4 linked regions of the Homo sapiens genome follow. The protein of the gene in region 1 purifies or fractionates together with the protein of each later gene. This does not show direct contact. Each region holds a gene or a part of one and is shown in the gene's direction. Other genes may lie near its edges. The genes, in order: KCNG4, TMEM201, AXL and ATF6.

The links.
Region 2: the proteins of KCNG4 (region 1) and TMEM201 purify together in Homo sapiens (affinity purification with mass spectrometry; one large-scale study listed by BioGRID and IntAct). This does not show direct contact.
Region 3: the proteins of KCNG4 (region 1) and AXL purify together in Homo sapiens (affinity purification with mass spectrometry; one large-scale study listed by BioGRID and IntAct). This does not show direct contact.
Region 4: the proteins of KCNG4 (region 1) and ATF6 purify together in Homo sapiens (affinity purification with mass spectrometry; one large-scale study listed by BioGRID and IntAct). This does not show direct contact.

What each region holds. Positions count from the first base shown.
Region 1 is NC_000016.10:84,223,013-84,226,512, reverse strand, and holds part of KCNG4 (voltage-gated potassium channel regulatory subunit KCNG4), read left to right. Parts: intron 1-3,492; coding exon 3,493-3,500. UniProt on the Homo sapiens protein: Regulatory subunit of the voltage-gated potassium (Kv) channel which, when coassembled with KCNB1, modulates the kinetics parameters of the heterotetrameric channel namely the time course of activation, deactivation and inactivation and on the voltage-dependence of activation.
Region 2 is NC_000001.11:9,591,860-9,595,454, forward strand, and holds part of TMEM201 (transmembrane protein 201), read left to right. Parts: intron 1-3,595. UniProt on the Homo sapiens protein: Critical regulator of angiogenesis and endothelial cell (EC) migration. Promotes the migration of endothelial cells, which is essential for angiogenesis.
Region 3 is NC_000019.10:41,259,717-41,262,333, forward strand, and holds the end of AXL (tyrosine-protein kinase receptor UFO isoform 1 precursor), read left to right. Parts: coding exon 1-188; 3' UTR 189-2,050; downstream 2,051-2,617. UniProt on the Homo sapiens protein: Receptor tyrosine kinase that transduces signals from the extracellular matrix into the cytoplasm by binding growth factor GAS6 and which is thus regulating many physiological processes including cell survival, cell proliferation, migration and differentiation.
Region 4 is NC_000001.11:161,772,805-161,776,399, forward strand, and holds part of ATF6 (cyclic AMP-dependent transcription factor ATF-6 alpha), read left to right. Parts: intron 1-3,595.

The sequences.
Region 1 (3,500 bases):
ACAGTTTTACAGGTGAAATGTACATACACTGAAATGCACAAATCCTAGGTGTAGAATTTAATAAACGGATGCACCCGTGTCAGCCTCTCCCCTGTGAGTATAGAATATTTCTGTGACCCCAGAAAGCTCCCTCGTGGCCCTTCACAGGCCATCCCTACACTACCCAGAGGCAGCCACTGTTCTGATCACTTTGTGCACCCTAGATGAGGCTGCCTGTTCTCGAGCTTCCCACAAGTGGAAACACACACCCGGCTTGCTTTGCTCCACATCATGCCTGTGGGATTCATCGGTGTTGTTTCACCATTCACACCCTGGGCCTTCTCCAGGCTGACGCTTGCTCTTCTTCATTGCAGGAAGGAGCCAGAACACACCTCGCTCTGCCTGTGGCAAGGGCTAGGAATAGGGTGACCAACCATCCCGGTGTGCCCAGGGCCCAGGGGGTTCCTAGGACCCGGAACTTTCTGGGTTTAAGCACAGAACTTCCACAAAGGGAGAAAGGAAAACTTTTTTCTTTCCTTCTTTCCCCTTTTTTTCTTTTCTTCGAATGTTTGCTAAGCTGGGAGTTATTTCCTCTGCCCACACTCCATAAACACCCCCTGCCCCAATGCCAGCATTTCTGAGGAACCAGTGCTGGGAGGCTGGATTTAGGATGCACAGCAGAGCCTGATGCAGGTGCAGTGACGCGGCAGAGCAGAGCCCTTGCTGCAGTCCAGAGAGGTGGCCAGAGGGCCAGGCCGTGGGAGGGCAGGAGCCGGTGTGCATGGCTTGAGTGTCCAAATGCCAGCCCCACAGGCAGGAGGAGGACCTGGCAGCGCCTTCTCGGCCTCTCAGGAGTCACCTTCCTGAGCTATCGGGTCATCAGTATGGAAAAGTTATTCCCAGGCTATAAGTATTTTAAGCCTAGGGAGAAACTCCCAGGATGTCTGCAAAGAGAGAGGCCTTGTAGGCAGAATCTAGCTCAGAGTCTGAAAACCTTCCAGGTGCCTCAGAGTGAATGGGGGGAGTTACCAAAATGTAGATTCCCGGGCCCCACCCTAAGGTTTGGATTTTGTGATGGGGGCCCAAGAATCTGCATTTACAACAAGCACCCTGGGGGCTTCTGGTGCCAGGGTTTCCAAATCAGCTTTCAGAAATACCAATTCTGTTCCAAACTCTGCATTGGAAACTGAAGCACAGAGAGGGCCAGTGGCCGCTGCAAAGTCACACAGCAAGTTTGTAGCAGGGCTGGGGAATCAGAACCCAAAACTTCTGAGCCCTTCAGGATCCTGAAGCAAACCCTGGGCAGTCATGGCAAAGACCTCTCGGTGGGCTGGAGAATCCCCTCATCTTCCTGTAATATCCAGCAACAGGAAGAAGGTATTGCTACCCTTACACTGACCAGGAGACTGTGGTCCATGACCAATGTATAGTTCGGTTAAAATGGCTACAGCGCATCCTGTGCCTGCTAGGTGCACGGTCCTGTTAATGGCTTTATGTGCATAATTTCCATTCATCATGACAGCCCTCCAGAGGTTAGACAACTGAAAGTCCAGAGGAGACAAGTGATTTGCCCAAGTAAGTGGAAGAGATGGGATTTGAAACTGCGCTAGGCTCTGAGAGTATTGTAACTAGACAAGCAGACATGGTTTCTGGGGGGCTTGAAGGCTGGTAGGGCACAGAAAGTTCCTGATTCTCCAATCTTGCTAAAAACTTGCTGTGTGGCTTCGCACTGGCCACTGACCCTCTCTGTGCTTCAGTTTCCAAAGAAGAGGCTGGAACACTCTGGACTCCACCCCTTGGCAGTGCTGCCTCTGACTCCCACCCCTGCAATAGTCCACACAGAAGTCCAGCCAGAAAGGTGCCCTGCCCTGGACAGGCAAATAGAGACTGTCGTGGTTCAGTCTCTTTCTCTTTCTCCAGCAGCCAGGCATAAAGAACATTTCAATTTATGATTTCTGTGGACACTGGAAATAATTTCTTTTTCCATTTCAGAGCATTTTAATCCAGAGAAAACTGTGGTTGTCAACACCTTGCCTTTTACACAGAGAAGTTGCTTTGGCCATTCATCCATTCATCCATCAAATATACATATCTGTGTGTGTGTGTGTGTGTGTGTGTGTGTGTGTGTGTAAATATGTATAGCAAAGTTTTCTACCCTGGCTCCACATTTGAATTATCCATGGGGGTTCTGGAAAATTCTACTGTGCAGCTCAAACCTACATTAATTAAATTAGAATCTTGGGAGGACCCTGCCCAAGCAACAGAATGTTTCAAGGAACCCCCAGGTGATTCCAACATGCAGCCAAGCTTGAGAACCACACACTAGAACAGTGCCTGTCAAACTTCAGTTTGCATGAGTCACCTGGAGACCTTGTTAACTGCAGAATATGATTCCGTGGGATGGGGTGGGGCCTGAGATGCTGTGTTTCTAACAAGCTCCTCGGGGAGGCTGATGCTTTTGGCTCAAGGTCCACACTTTGAGTGGCAGAAGGACTGGTGGAACTACCCTGAACTACTGGGGAGGAAGAACAAAATACAGAACTCAGAACGGCCCCCGCCCAGCTGGAACTGCTGAGCTAGAATCCCGCATGTCGATGGCAGCAATCACACATCCCAAGGGCTGTCTTGGGGATTCAGGAACCCTCTCTGCCCCACCAGCCTTCAAGCCATCAGAAACGATATCTGTTTGTCTAGTCACAGAATGCCCGGGGTTAGAACCATGCCTGGCACAAAGTGGGCCCTCCATACATTTCTGTTAGCTAAATGAATGAGGGGTGGTAAACAACAAAGTTACAAAATAGCCAACAGTATCTAAGAGACCCTGGTACCGCCTCCTATGTATGTGAGCTCAGGCGAGTCACTTCACTGCTGTGACCAACTTCCTGGGCCATCAAATGGGGTCACACTGCCTGCTCATAACATTGCTATGTGGCTTGAGTGACAGCAGGAGAGCAGTGCGTGGTCCCCCAAGGTACTTAACATCATTAAGGTACAGGCTGGCAGCTATAACAAAGAGACCCCAAACTAGAATAGTTTTAAGCCAAATTTTTCTCTTGTGCAATAGTCCCAAGGTGAGGGATGTAGGTGAGTATCGACAACTCTTATTCCAGATTCTCCCGCCTTGATGTTCCCTCCTCCCCTGGGGCGCTGGTCCAGTCCTCTCTTCTTAGCTGGGTTGCAGGCCCATTTGTGCTGTCCCGGCTCACAGGAAGGATGGAAAGAGTGTGCAAGAGTTAGATCCAGAGGTGGTTTGCATCACTTCTGTTTCCAGTCCGGAGGTGAGGACTTAGTCATATTTGGCCACACCTAGCGGCAAGGGAAGCCAGAAAGAACAGTCTCTGACCTAGCCGATCTGCTGTGTACCCAGCCACAACTGGAAAACTGTGTAAAAGGAGGTTCTGGTGGACGACTAAGTTTACAGCACAAAGCTCATGGGCATGAAGTCGTCCCCCGATTTCCAGCACAGTTGCAAGTCCACTCTCTACCCCGCGTTGTTGCCTCTTCTCCCCGCAGGGCGAATG
Region 2 (3,595 bases), on another chromosome or scaffold:
CGTCTGCCCTGCTGGTGAGCACAGCTGTGCTTCAGGGCGACCGCAGATGCCCCGCTTATTGGCCTCTGTCCTGTGGTATCTGTCACCAGCTGCCCTGGGAGGTCGTCGTTCTTGTCTTGCTCACGTTTGCATCTCTGCCAGCCTAGGGTGGTGCTTGCTTAACTGATGGGATGTTCCGCTCGCACCAGGAGCGACCCTAGAATGGTGGATTGGGGCGTTTTCCATCCTGATGTTGGAGTTGCTGCTGTGGATTCAAGTATGTTTTGCTTGGAGATGGGCTGGAGGCCCTGGCAGTGCTAAGTTCTGAGTTGCATTTTGATGCTTCTGTCGCTGAAGCCCAGGAGGCCTCTTCTCTGGTCCTTCTGGTTGAATGAAACACGGTGTTGCCCACTTAAGCGGGAAGTGCAGGTGAGGAGCTGCTTGGGAGGCTGGCCTCTGGCTCCCTGGCCCCTGAGGGAACCTGACTCTTACAGTCTTTCCAACCCCGCACTGGGGCCAGCACACAGTGTCCCAGGTCCTGAGCAATGTGCTAAGGCCCCTGTCTGAGGAGGTGATGATTTCCCAGGGCTGGGCAGAGACTCTGGGAGCTGGCCAGCCTGCTACAACCACTGAGCTCCCCAGGGCAGGGACCAAGCCCCATCCAGTGCCCCCTCTAGCAGGTTCCCCCTACCTGGTGCTTTCCTAGGCTGAGGACCCAGCGCTGGGCTCGCACCTAGAACAGAGCCCCTCCCACCTGCAGGGAATAGTGAGGCATCCCGCAGGAGCTTTGTTTCAATACATGTCCGTGCTCAGGGCTCTGGAGTGGTGTCATCATTAAGGACACGTGCCCGTCTTGTTTTCCCTCAGTGTGTATGTTGGGCTTGTGGACGGGGCAGGTACAGAGCATGCAGCTGCCCTAGCTTTTTCTTAGGGACCCATCTCCCTCCGGGCTTCCTCAGGCTTCCCAGGGGCTCGGCATCGAGCTAGCAGGAGCCGAGATAGTGGCCTCCAGGCCCTCGTGTCCACCCATCAAATGGGACCCATAGGGCCAGCTGCTGTCCCCCCAGAGCTGGAACCGTTGTGGGCAGGGGCAGCCCCTCCAGGCCCGAGCTCCTCTCTTGCTTGTGTTGCAGGGACATTCTGTCACGTTACCTCAAACCTTGCCCACCAACTGTGGTTTGTCCCAGAGTCAAGTTAAGGACGGAGGTTGTTGGCTTGCAGAAGAGAAGTGGGCTGAGGGGTTTATCAGGGAAACTTGGGGGCTTCTCCCAGAGCAAAAACAGGGTCCAGCCTAGGCTGGCTCAGAAGAGATTGACCCAGATGCTGCCTCAACAGGCCGGGCAGAGGCAAGCATAGGCTAGGGGCCAGGACTTCCCCCACCTGCGTGGGGACCTCGTCCGAGCTGTGGACAGTGTTTCACATGTGGTCATGTGTCTGACGCCGCCGTGCTGGTGCCTGGGGGACCTGCAATTCATGCCCAGCTCCCCATCGACCCCTGGCCTACCTGCCTCTTGGGACCTTTCAGGGCTCACCCCCAAAGGCACTGTGGGAGAGGACCCCCTGGCAGGTAGGGCCCGCCTGGCCAAAGTGGGTGGCAGCTGCTCTGGCCACCAGAGAGCCCACCCCCAACTCTAGCAGGGATTACCCAGGGCTGAGAGTGACAGGAGTTAGAGCTGCTGGCCCCAGGGACAAGGGCTAATCCCTTGCCTCCCCCCTCTTCCGGGCCGCCTCATTCTAGATCAGTGGAGCCATTTCCCTAGCAACAGAGCAGGAGATTCAGAATGGAAACATGACTTCCTGGGGTGGGCGGGGCTTCATGGCAGGCACCCTGGACAGAAGCCACAGCCCCTGCTCAGCTGTCATTGGTCCCCTAGGCAGGCTCAAGGGTTGACCTTCCTTTTCAAACAGGGTAAGAGAGCTGAGGGGCCTTCCGTGGGGATAGGAAGCCTGTCACCCAAAGTCAGTTGGGTGCAGAGCCTTGTCCGGCTCAGGGGTGGGGGGTCACACAAGCAGGTCTTCACCCATCAGGACACGCCCCCATGCACAGTTACAAAGAAGCCTGTACAACAGCTAGTAATTAGCACAGGGAAGTCCACGTGCTTAGTTGCCCGGGAGTGCTAGATGCGGGCACCGCAGCAGAGCAGGTCTCCACATGCCCCAGAGCGAGTCTCCTTCCCTGGCTGTTCATGTAGTCGGCGCCCGGTGGCGCTGTCCTAATGCCGAGCACTGAGCGCCTCCCTGCATTCTCCTGTAGGATCCTCACAGTGGCCTCTCCTGGGGCAGGGATGCTCAGCAGCCCCTTTTGACAGGTGAGGGATGAGACTGCGGCCCTAGAAGGCAGAGCTGCTCTCCAAGGCCATGCCTGTTGCCATACTGCCTGCCCAGCTGGCTGGCTCCGTTTCGTCGCTGGTCTGCAGGCCTTGCCCGCTGTCTCCATGCTGTTGACAAGATGCAGCGGTCCTTGTCCTCTGTGAGGGCTTGGGCCTGTGCTGGGGCAGGGGGTGTGGGGTGAGAAGGGTGTGGGCCGAGGCTGCTGGGGGAGATCCCAGCTGCCCCTGTGGGCCCTGGGCCTTCCCCGCAGGGCCTGGTCCCATCTCCCCTTCTCTCCCAAGCCTCCCCCCACTCCATGTAACTTGGCTTTTTTGCGTACATACTCTAGGCCAGTCACTGTTAAGTGCGTCCCACGAGCAGTCCCTTGTGAGGGAGGTGCTTTTGTCCCCAGCTGACAGGTGATCACACATCTCCCTTCATATGCCCCTGGTCAGGAGAAGGGGGTGGAGGGGAGGGCCGGGCAGCAGCAGTAGTGTCAGAAGCGGGAGCCCTGCTTCCCAGGGCCCAGCCTCCCCCTCAGGCCCCTGGCCAGCCCGATGGGTTAGCGACAGAGCTGGCTCTTTGCAGAGCACAGCACCTTTCTGTCTTGTGTCACTGCGTCCTTGCAGCATGCAGAAGCCGGGGGTGCTGTGGTTGCCCCCACTTCACAGATGTGGACACTGAGGCTGAGAGTACAGGAACTTCCTGGGGCTCCGTCCTCCTTTCTCTGAGCAGCGCCTCAGGATGAAAGGCCAGAGGGCCGTGCTCTCTGGTCCTGTGGACGGGGGGCCGTCTGTGCAGGGAGTGGCTGCCCACTCTGGCAGGGGCTCAAGCGGTGTCCTCGAGCTGGAGGTGGCCCCTGGGGGAGAGGTGGAGAGTCGGAGCAGCAAAGCCGGGGCCCCAGGGCTCCCACAGCTGCTGCCTGTCACCCACATTGTTCCTGGATTTCCGGAACTGGGGGGCTTTTTTGGGCAGTGGCGGTCTCTCTGCCCACCCCTCCCCAGTCCCCCAGTGTCCCACAACCAATGAGGTGGGTAGAGGGGGGCCCAGAGCATAGATCCCCCAGTGTCTGGGCTGGGATTATCCCGAGGCCCCACCTGTCACCACACGTGTAGCCAGCGAGGGCCACTGTCCTCTCCACCAGAGAGGGTTGGCCCCAGGCTGGGCAGCTGTCACTTGCTCCCTCCCCTCAGCCTCCTTGGCTCTCACATCCTGGGACTGTCTCTCTCTGGAGCACAGGAGGCCCCTTTCAATCTGGAGGCTCCCTGGGGCGCACCCTTTCTGCAGCCCAGGATCAAGGACCTCG
Region 3 (2,617 bases), on another chromosome or scaffold:
CCCCTGGAGCTGCAGGAGGAGCTGACCCCCCAACCCAGCCAGACCCTAAGGATTCCTGTAGCTGCCTCACTGCGGCTGAGGTCCATCCTGCTGGACGCTATGTCCTCTGCCCTTCCACAACCCCTAGCCCCGCTCAGCCTGCTGATAGGGGCTCCCCAGCAGCCCCAGGGCAGGAGGATGGTGCCTGAGACAACCCTCCACCTGGTACTCCCTCTCAGGATCCAAGCTAAGCACTGCCACTGGGGAAAACTCCACCTTCCCACTTTCCCACCCCACGCCTTATCCCCACTTGCAGCCCTGTCTTCCTACCTATCCCACCTCCATCCCAGACAGGTCCCTCCCCTTCTCTGTGCAGTAGCATCACCTTGAAAGCAGTAGCATCACCATCTGTAAAAGGAAGGGGTTGGATTGCAATATCTGAAGCCCTCCCAGGTGTTAACATTCCAAGACTCTAGAGTCCAAGGTTTAAAGAGTCTAGATTCAAAGGTTCTAGGTTTCAAAGATGCTGTGAGTCTTTGGTTCTAAGGACCTGAAATTCCAAAGTCTCTAATTCTATTAAAGTGCTAAGGTTCTAAGGCCTACTTTTTTTTTTTTTTTTTTTTTTTTTTTTTTTGCGATAGAGTCTCACTGTGTCACCCAGGCTGGAGTGCAGTGGTGCAATCTCGCCTCACTGCAACCTTCACCTACCGAGTTCAAGTGATTTTCCTGCCTTGGCCTCCCAAGTAGCTGGGATTACAGGTGTGTGCCACCACACCCGGCTAATTTTTATATTTTTAGTAGAGACAGGGTTTCACCATGTTGGCCAGGCTGGTCTAAAACTCCTGACCTCAAGTGATCTGCCCACCTCAGCCTCCCAAAGTGCTGAGATTACAGGCATGAGCCACTGCACTCAACCTTAAGACCTACTGTTCTAAAGCTCTGACATTATGTGGTTTTAGATTTTCTGGTTCTAACATTTTTGATAAAGCCTCAAGGTTTTAGGTTCTAAAGTTCTAAGATTCTGATTTTAGGAGCTAAGGCTCTATGAGTCTAGATGTTTATTCTTCTAGAGTTCAGAGTCCTTAAAATGTAAGATTATAGATTCTAAAGATTCTATAGTTCTAGACATGGAGGTTCTAAGGCCTAGGATTCTAAAATGTGATGTTCTAAGGCTCTGAGAGTCTAGATTCTCTGGCTGTAAGGCTCTAGATCATAAGGCTTCAAAATGTTATCTTCTCAAGTTCTAAGATTCTAATGATGATCAATTATAGTTTCTGAGGCTTTATGATAATAGATTCTCTTGTATAAGATCCTAGATCCTAAGGGTCGAAAGCTCTAGAATCTGCAATTCAAAAGTTCCAAGAGTCTAAAGATGGAGTTTCTAAGGTCCGGTGTTCTAAGATGTGATATTCTAAGACTTACTCTAAGATCTTAGATTCTCTGTGTCTAAGATTCTAGATCAGATGCTCCAAGATTCTAGATGATTAAATAAGATTCTAACGGTCTGTTCTGTTTCAAGGCACTCTAGATTCCATTGGTCCAAGATTCCGGATCCTAAGCATCTAAGTTATAAGACTCTCACACTCAGTTGTGACTAACTAGACACCAAAGTTCTAATAATTTCTAATGTTGGACACCTTTAGGTTCTTTGCTGCATTCTGCCTCTCTAGGACCATGGTTAAGAGTCCAAGAATCCACATTTCTAAAATCTTATAGTTCTAGGCACTGTAGTTCTAAGACTCAAATGTTCTAAGTTTCTAAGATTCTAAAGGTCCACAGGTCTAGACTATTAGGTGCAATTTCAAGGTTCTAACCCTATACTGTAGTATTCTTTGGGGTGCCCCTCTCCTTCTTAGCTATCATTGCTTCCTCCTCCCCAACTGTGGGGGTGTGCCCCCTTCAAGCCTGTGCAATGCATTAGGGATGCCTCCTTTCCCGCAGGGGATGGACGATCTCCCACCTTTCGGGCCATGTTGCCCCCGTGAGCCAATCCCTCACCTTCTGAGTACAGAGTGTGGACTCTGGTGCCTCCAGAGGGGCTCAGGTCACATAAAACTTTGTATATCAACGAGCTTCTGTCTCCTCTTGTCTCCTTTTAGCTGTGATGTGGCCCCATTCCCTGGCAATTCAGTTCCCCCATCAGAAAAAAGAAGGGCTTGGTAGGGTCTTGGAATTCTGTCCTCACTAGAGAGGGTAGAAATGAACACACAGATAGACAAAAAGACATACAAGCAAAGAGATGCAGGTTCTCAGAAACCCCCAGTGAGGAACTGGCATACAGATCCAGGATCACAGACACACACACACACACACACACCTGTTCCGCCGCAAACTAACAGACACATGAATTAATGGACACACCCAGGAGGACCTGGTCACAAATACAGAGACTGAAACTCAGACGCATAGAGTAACACAGACACACAGAATTACACAGACACAAGCATATTTACAAACATGCTCAGGCAGATACCCGCCACGAATAGGAAGAGACACAGACCTAGAGTCAAGTGACACAAATACTCAAGAGACATGTAGAGTACAACAGGTACTCACAACCCCGAACGTTCAGACTGACATAGAAACACAGGCACAGAACACCTCCGATCATCACGGACCCACAAAGGGCCTCCAGCGA
Region 4 (3,595 bases), on another chromosome or scaffold:
AGATGTTACTTCACCTCTTGCTGTTACTGCATTTCTCTACTGTATGTTACAGCAGAATTCCTTTTAAAAAATGTCCACGTTCACTGACTCTAGTTTTTTATTTCTCCTTGTCTCTTGAACCCAGTCCAGTCAGGTGCCACCACTCCACTGAAACTCCTGTTTTTTTTTTTTTTTTTTTTTTGAGACAGAGTCTTGCTCTGTTGCCCAGGCTAGAGTGCAATGGCACGATCTTGGCTCACTGTAACCTCCACCTCCTGGATTCAAGCGATTCCCGCCTCAGCTTCCTGAGTAGCTGAGATTACAGGCGCCTGCCACCATGCCCGGCTACTTTTTGTATTTTTTTTTTTTTGAGACGGAGTCTCTCTCTGTTACCCAGGCTGGAGTGCAGTGGCTCACTCGGCTCACTGCAAGCTCCACCTCCCAGGTTCACGCCATTCTTCTGCCTCAGCCTTCCGAGTAGCTGGGACTACAGGCACCTGCTACCACACCTGGCTAAATTTTTTTTTGTATTTTTAGTAGAGACGGGGTTTCACCGTGTTAGCCGGGATGGTCTTGATCTCCTGACCTCATGATCCGCCTGCCCACCTTGGCCTCCCAAAGTGCTGAGATTACAGGCGTCAGCCACTAATTTTTGTATTTTTAGTAGAGATGGGGTTTCACCATGCTGGCCAGGCTGGTCTCAAACTCCCGACCTCATGTGATCCACCCGCCTCGGCCTTCCAAAGTGCTGGGATTACAGGCGTGAGCCATCATGCCTGGCCTGAAACTGCTGTTTTTAAGGGCACTACTGATTTCCACATTGCTAAACCCAGTGACTGTGTCTGATCTTATTAAACTTATAAGGAGTAAATGAATAAATAAATGGGCAAGGTGGAGGTGAGGTGGGAAAGTTTGTTGAGTACACTAAAAATAGTAACTACCATTATTTACTACTGTTGAGGGAAATCTAATAGTGTGGGACTGGTGCAAAGGATATAGAAATAGGCAATAGGTTTTAGGATACTTTGGGGTAACTGATGCTAACAGTTTCTTATGGATTCTTTTGGAATGTTCTATAAATATACGAGTATATTTATCAACCCACCTTCAGTTATTTTTTTAACCACAGAAAAGTCAAAAGATCAGTACACTGATAAACGTGCGTTTTCCTTATCTAGATTTACCAACTGTTAACATCGTGCCACATTCACTTTATATCTTAATATTACCCACACTTTCCTCCTTTTTCACATCTGAAAGTGGGCTGCAGATAATATGAAACTCCTAAACACTTCACCATGTATTTCCTAAGAATGAGGAAATGTTTATTTTTAAAAAGCATCAATTCATTTTAATATGCTTTATACTTCAAAGCTAACATCACAGGGTTCTTTTTCACCTTCTTGCACCATATGCTTGTATTTCTCTTCTGCCGCTATGAGAATCCTGATTCCCAATAACATCCTTTGTTTTTATAGGCTCACTTCAGCAGCTCTGTTGGAAATAAACTGAAAGAGGGGCAAGGGCAGAAGCAGGGAGACGTTTTGGAGGCTGTTATAGCAATCCCCATGAGTTACAATAGTAGCAGTGGAGTAATGAGAAGTAGTTGGATTATGGATATGTACACACACACACACACACACACACACACACATACACACATATATATACATACATTTTAAAATTTTGAAATAGTTTGAAATCTATAGAAAAGTTTTAAGAACAGTGCAAAGAACTCTTGCATGCCTTTTACACAGACTCCTCAGTTGTTAAATTTTACTGCATTTACTCAATTTCTCTCTTTCTCCCTTTCAAGAGAGAGAGATGTGTTGACCCATCACCTTTAAATACTGTAGTGTATACTCTCTATCCTCCTGCCTCCCAAAAGAAGGCCACTTTCCTCTATTACTACCCTATATTTCTTCCAGTCAGGAGATAAACATTGATACAACAGTGTCATCCAATTCAAAGACACCATTCAAAGTTTGCCATCTGTTTCAATAATGATTTGCTTTTCTAGTCTAGGATTTTACTTGCAAACACTCATTGCTTTTACTTATCATGTCTCATCAGTGTCCTTTAATCTGGAACAGTTCTTTAGTCTTTTCCTGTCTCTAATGTCCTTGACAGTCTTAAAGAGTAGAAGTCTTTTATTCGACAAGATGATCCTAAACCACTAAGGGGTTCCTTGGAAAAATGACCAATTCCAGGGCTGGGAAAGTGCAGGGAAAGTGCAAAATAAGCCTGGAAAATCTTGGGCCAGAAATTCTCAGCAAATGAACATGTTAAAAAGAACAAAGGCCCCAATATGAATGAACTCCCCGTGGTCAAATCTGGGAAAATTTGGCATCAGAATAAAATGAGGGTATACATTATAGTGTAAATACTATGCGATGTTCCTATGCCATCATATCATCCTGTGATATAGTCACATGATCACTTGGTCAAGTTGGTATCTTCTAGGTTTCACCACTGTAAAGCCACTGCTTCCCATTTTGTATTTTATTGCTATTTTGGGGGAGATAATCTGACATAACACCAATATCCTTTTCTTATTAAACCTCTAACCACGAGCCCTAGCCTCATTAATAACCCCAATCTATATCAGTTACCACTCTAATGGTTGCCAAATGGTAACTATCTAACTCTATCATTCTGTCTATCATTCTATCATTGTTGATTGACATTGCACTATAAGAACCAACCTACCTACCTACCTTCCTTCCTTCCTTTGTTCCGTGATGAACTCATTGATTCCTTTTTTATTTGGTGGTTGGTAAACCGCTACTCTCATTTTATTCTGATGCTCAGATTTTCCCAGATTTGACCACTGAGAATTCATTCATATTGGGGCCTTTGTTCTTTTTGACATATTCCTGTCATTTGCTGAGAATTTCTGGCACAGCAAGATTTCCAGGCTTATTTTGCACTTTCCCTGCTGCAAGCCCTGGAATTGGTTATTTCTCCAAGGAACCCCTTAGTGGACTTCTGTTTGGTGGAAGATGGTATTTAGTATCCAAGATCTGGTCACCCAGTATTTTCATTGCTACTGGGATGTCATTGCTTCTAGGACCTCTTAGCAGACAGAACTAGGAAATATATATACATGTGTGTATATATATATATATGTGCATGTGTATATATGTATATATGCATAATACAAACATCTGCATATGTGTGTACATATATATATACTTCCACAGCTATCTGTATGTGTTATATTTTAAATGAGTTTATTTACTAATACTTCTAGTTCTAATCCAACATCTTAGGATTCTTTTAGTCTCCCGACTCTTTCCATGCTCTTAAATCCTTTCTCAGACTGTGAGAAATCTGACTCCAATTATTTTAGTAAAAGGCAAAAGATTCATTCGTTCTGAAGAGAAACCAGAGCATTCTAATTATTTTAGATATATTCAACCATTTGCTCAGTCACCTAACATATTTGTTCAGTATGACCACTCTCCTAACCACTCAGCCTGCGTTTTCCATCTGCTACTCCATTCCCCCTCCCACTGGGCTGGGGCATGCTGGCATCTTTGCTGGGCAATAGTCTCTCCCACACCATCCTATTTCCTTGGATATGAGGCATATTGCTGGAGATGACTGTGCACAA